Linked DNA regions of Homo sapiens: region 2 is linked to region 1. The links come from fine-mapping of genetic effects on gene expression. A gene starts in region 1. The other region holds a variant in brackets. All regions are shown on one strand. Distances are from middle to middle.

Evidence for each region. PIP is the estimated chance that this variant, and not a neighbour inherited with it, causes the effect.
Region 2: its variant is the best candidate, but not a certain one, in a credible set for the expression of CNRIP1 in visceral fat (GTEx, PIP 0.57).

The regions. Positions count from the first base shown.
Region 1 is chr2:68,318,523-68,321,435 of GRCh38, reverse strand. CNRIP1 (cannabinoid receptor interacting protein 1) reads left to right here and starts at 1,487. Exons shown (of 3, transcript NM_015463.3): 1 at 1,487-2,214. The coding sequence starts at 2,036.
Region 2 is chr2:68,391,754-68,394,666 of GRCh38, reverse strand. It overlaps PLEK (pleckstrin), which reads right to left. Exons shown (of 9, transcript NM_002664.3): 7 at 1,422-1,505; 8 at 491-560. Among named protein-coding and RNA genes, the nearest start is that of PLEK, 28 kb to the right of the region's middle. The variant C/T (reference allele first, on the strand shown) is at 1,336.

The DNA of each region.
Region 1 (2,913 bases):
AGAACCAGGTTTTAAAATGGAGTCATCATCCTCCAGGTCCAATGCTCTTTTTGATACACAGGTGGAAGTTGGCTTGAGATTGTGGGGTTGCTAAACAAAAGGTTGAGGAAAAAAGGCAAAATTTCCAAAAAGGCTTTTAAATGACCCCAAAAAGATACTCACCCTCTTTCCACTACTCATAAACCATAATAACCAACATTAAGTTTACTGTGTAACTCTCTCATTCTTTTAAAAGAGCTAATACAAACATACACATTTATATTCTTTTTAAATTTTCATTTTTCTAAAACACTAGAGATGCTACTTGCAATTAGATTTCTTTTCATCATTCCAGGTAAATCGCAAGGATCTAATTAATTTTAAAGATGTGAAAGAATTTACATATGGACATGATTAAGACCACAACCGTAAGTCAATTCAACAACGATTTCTGGAGCACCTACTATGTGTCAGGCACTATTTTGGCATGCTGGGGAAACAGCAACAAACAAAACAGACAAAATGCTCGCCCTCAGGCTTTGTTTCCCAGCCATCCCACTTTTATCATTAACAGTTTTTGCCTGTGTGTTTGCCAATGCAACCTATATTTCATTATTTTGATAGTTGTGTAACGTTCTATAGTGTGGGTATATAAGAATTTATTCAGCCATTTATTTATTGGTTAACATTTCATTTAGGTTTTATTTTTATTTTTGCAACCAATGTTGCAATAAACACCCATATTACATATATATTATATGTATAGCTTATTATTTCTTAAAAAAGAGCAGTCTAACTTGGGTAAACAAAAACTGCCAAGGAAACGCATCCCTACCCATTTGTTCTCACTAGCCCACTTCATTTCCCAGGTGTGCTCCCTGGCTCTGGTACTATCCATCTGGGTGGTGCTGAAGCAGGTGCTCTCTCTGCTCCGGGAAGCCATTCCCAGTATAGTCCTCACCCCCTGAGTCTCCCCTCGCTTCCAAAAGTCAGCTGTCTACCGACCTCTGCCACGAAAACTGTCTAATCACGCTTAATATGCAAATCTAAACTCTGCGGTGTCGCATATGGCCCCCTGCCAATAATCCTTTGACCCATCCCACCTCTTGGCCATTTTGTCACCAGAATGCCTTAGGCTCATGTCAGTTGCCTTTTACAGGGTTAATAGCTCACCCTTCAAAATCTGTGTAAATATATGTGATTCATTACATATATTTATGTATGTGTCATTTTTGGGACGAGCATACGTATAATGGAAATGTACACCCACAAGAAGATGTAGCTCCTTGAATATGGTTATTTTCTTCCTCTTGCATCCATTCCTCATCCAGCGTGGCTCCATCACGTGGAATTGCGCCTTTCCTCGGCCATTTCCCCTAAGCTTTGGAAAGACTCATATTTCCTGAAATTTAAATCACCGGCTAGCGGTTTCCTGTCCCCCCTTCCCGCCTCCCTTTACCCCCCCTCAGCCTCCTCCCGCCTGGCTGGCGCCGGATCCGCGAGCAGCAGTGTCCACCTCACGTAGCTGGCCGAGGCGGTATCCAGATTCCGGGGGTCTCGCTCCTTGGCATAGTGGTCGCTTAACTCCAGCGCCTTCCCAGTGCCTCCCAAACCTCTCCTCCTCCTGCCCGGGGCTGTTCTAGGAGGAGCCTAAATGTCCGCTTCCCCAGCTGAAGGGGATTGTGGTGCGTAAACAGGATTAACTCCCTCGCCCCCAGCTGCGCGGATCTGCGCGGCGGCCTGCGGGCCAGAGCGAGCCTTCGGGTGCGTGGAGGGCGCAGCACTGGAGCGGGGGATGGGGAAGCGCGCGGCCTTGGAGCCGTCTCTTGGGCCCGCTTCCTCGCCGAGTGGGGAGGGGGGCCACAGCCTAAGGAGCTGCTCCTCAAAAGCCCGGGCGGACGGCGGCGACGGCGCGGGTTCCTAGCGGCAGCCTCAGCTCCACCACCTCCCTCACCCTCCCCGCGCTTCCTCTCCGCCCCTCGCGCTCCAGCCACTCGGCCGCAGCCGGCGCTGTCCTCCGCCCCCCGGAGCCGCCGCGCCAGACCCTCGCCCAGACATGGGGGACCTGCCGGGCCTCGTGCGCCTCTCCATCGCGCTGCGCATCCAGCCTAATGACGGCCCGGTCTTTTACAAGGTGGACGGGCAGCGCTTCGGCCAGAACCGCACCATCAAGCTGCTCACCGGCTCCTCCTACAAGGTTGAGGTGAAGATTAAACCCAGCACGCTGCAGGTCGAGTGAGTGCGGGGCGCCTGGTGGCAGCAGGGTCCCCCATGGGGTACAGGCAGAGGACTGAGGCCCCCAGGACAGCCCGAGCCTCTCAAGGGCCTCTGGCCTCGCGCCGCTCCCAGCGGGCCCGGGGGTTGGAGGAAGAGGTCACTCCCTGTCCGCCTTCGTCCCCTTCCTTCCCTTTGGCTTGTATTCCTCCATTCTCGCTTCCCTCCACCCATCGCAGTGACCTCAGTGGGTTCTTTAAAATCAGTGACAAGAAGCCAGGGTTTTTGCTTGTCTGTTTCTTATAAATTTCTCCTGCCTTCTGTCCAGCCTTGGGCGCGGAACCGCAGGCGGTCGGGGTGGAGCAGATGGGAGAGGTCCGCAGGGTTCAGCCACCGCAATCCCAGCCCTCCTGCGCGCGGTCCAGGCGGCCCACAGGGTCTGCCCGCAAGGCTGAAGGAGGGAGAAAGGAGGAATGAGGTGGAAAGGCAGGGGAGGGGTGATTACTGGGGCTCCCTGAGGGATGCTCCCCACTCCCTTCGCCATTCAGTGGCTGGGACCCTGGGGTGGAGCAGCAGACACTAGTAAGAGAGCGGCCGCCCCTTCTCTGGCCTAGTTTCACGGTTTTCCATGCCGTATGCTGTTCTTTTTCTCCTGAGTTTTCTGTTCAGGCTGGTGATGGTGCCTGGGATTAGCAACATCCCCACAGCAAGAGGATGTTT
Region 2 (2,913 bases), 73 kb before region 1:
CTTGCTTGAGGCATCCACAAAGCCATCCAACTCCCCAAGGCCTGGAGAGCCTGGACAGCAGTTGGGAGACAAAAAATAACTCTGGTTTCTCCAAGGTTTTCAGACAGTAAATTCATTCCTGCTTTTTTTTTTGAGACAGAGTATTGCTCTGTCACCCAGGCTGGAGTGCAGTAGCACAATCTCAGCTCATTGCAACTTGCCAAGCTCAAACAATTCACAGGCATGTGCCACCATGCCCAGCTAATTTTTGTATTTTTAGTAGAGATGGGGTTTCACCACGTTAGCCAGGCTGGTCTCGAAATCCTGATCACAAGTGATCTGCCCTCCTCGGCCTCCCAAAGTGCCGGGATTACAGGTGGGAGCCACCATGCCTGCCCCATTCCTGCTTATCCTGATTAATTGATTGATTGATTAATGTTGGCCCAGGATGTCCAGGTGTGGGAGGGGAGTCTGAGCAGACCCACCTCTCTCACACAGAAATTCATCTTACCATTTGAGTTGCTCTCCACTGAAGTCACCACACAGCCTCTCAAGTGAATTGCTCCCAGGGGATCTTCTGCCTAAAGAAGAAAGGAGTTGTTCATTATGTTTCCAAAATGCAGAGTATAGATAGACCTCATCCTCTTGGTGAAAAAGCCAGACTCACTCTAATATAGATCAGGGCCCCCCAAAATAAGTAAGAGCAGAAGGAGATTAAAGAAAAACTGCTGACAGATCTAAGGTCCTTCCAGATCCTCCACACCCTGCTTCAGTGGGGCCAGGAGGCTCAATGAGAAAATGCAAGACGATCTGGACTTCAATCTGGAGAAAAGTGACAGGAGAGGTGGAGACACTGAGGTCACTGTATCCCACTAAAAAAGAGCTACATGTTTCCAGAGCTCTTTGGTCCCATGCACCTGATGCAGCAATATAACCACCCAGGGGAAGTCAAATAGCCCAGTGCTGCAAGCGGAGGGTGAGCACCCTACCCAGAGTTGTCTTCATGCTTTAAAAGTGGTTCATTTTATGGTGGAAAAAGTCCTCTTCGACAATCAACAGCCCAAATTGCTGGACTTAAACAATACCCTCATCCAAGTTGACCTGGATGAGGAATTATCACCTTTATGCATATTAAACCATGGACTGATTTAATTCCCCTGAAAATATCAGATTGGGGAAAAATATGTTGAGTTGACCAAATAAATTATAATATAGTGATATTTTGTTCCATCCCTAAGCTTATACTGACCTCAGAGGCCCAAGATCTCAGATCTTTGCATTGAAAGGGGATAGAAAAAGGTAGAGGAGAATGGGAGAAAAAAAAGTGGGCCAGTAAAGAGAAAAAGGGGATATCAA[C/T]AGAGTAGAGAGGGGAATAGGAAGCCCAGATTATAAATGCAGTGGATTTATTTATTTGAATGGATTTATGAACCACAGGACCTTACCCCAGCAGGGTCATAGTAGTGCAGGTAGGCAGGGTCTTCTCTCAAGATGAACTTCCTCACTTTCCAGTTTTTCCTTCTATGCCCCTGTATCCAGGATCAACATTAAAAGAAGGGATGGTGAATTCCCAGCATCACTCTGTACAAACAATACCTACAGAATAATTATTTGCTGAATTGAGAAAAGAAAGAGAAAATGAAATACTAACTCCAGGATAACAATATCCCGGCCTAGGTCTTTGTCAGGGAGATAGTGCTACAGCCAATAAATAATATGGATGTTATTAGATCGAAGAGGTGGATTAAATTATTTCTAATTATTGTCTTCCAGTTTTAGTATGATATAAGGCAGTACTAGGTACAATGTGCTGTGTTAGGTAATGTAGGGGGAATAAAGAGGTTTAAGATGCCCTGATCTTTAAAGAGTTTATGACCTATGTTGAAATATAAAGTAGCAAATGCCCAAATCAAATAATTGGTATAGATAATGGATTCCAAAGGCATTAAGTAGGGAATATGTAATTGTGGGCTTTGGATATCAAAGAAAGCCTCATAAAGACCTGCACTTATCCATGTGGGACACAGGATTTAGATGGGCAAGACAAAGGTGGGTAGGAGGACAACTGACAACACAAGAGCAGAAGTGGGAATGCAAGAGACATACTCAGGTGTTGATGAATAAGACCAGTCTGGCTAGAATGTAGGGTTCATGAAGAGTAGCAGAGGCAAGGTGGGAAAAGTGGACAGAGATTTAGTGGAAATAAAAGGCAGGGTTTGTTGTTGATGGCTTTTGAGTAGGAAGTGAAAGAATTACAATTACATTTTAAGAAGATTAATATGGTGACAAAGTGCAGGATGGACCAGCTGGCTAGATTAAAGGAAAGCCCAGGAAAAGATGGTAAGTAAAAAAGAATTCATTAGGGAAGGATCACAATAATCCAGGCATAAAATCATTAGGAACTAAACCTTAGGTAGCTGCAGTAGGAATGGAAATGCCTGTTGCTGTAACAGACATGATGAAGGAAGAAGAAGAGGCGGAAGAGGAGGAGGAGGAGAAAGAAGAAGAAGAAGAAGGAGGAGGAGGAGAAAAGGGGGAGGAAGGTAGGAGGAAGGAAAGAGGAAGGAAGAAAGAAAGAAGAAGAAGAAAGAAGGTGACGACTTGGCCTTTCCCAACAGAATTAAACACTGACATTGTCTAGACTGAGTTTTAAGGGCAGGATTTGTGTCTTGCTTATCTTTGTTTCCCAGGGCCACAGTGCCTGGCATATAGCAGCTGCTTCATATCTGTTTGTACTTGCTGTGAGTTACCAAGTTATTTCCATTAGTGTGTAGCAGATTTTAAACTGTCATGGTAAACCTGACTCTATGATTTCCCACAGGAAATTCAAATGACTTAACTCCAGAAGCCAAAAATAGTATTATATTAAAAGATACGGAGTTTCTATCTTGCCAATACAAGAAATATTATTTGTAATTTCTAAAGCACCACATATTG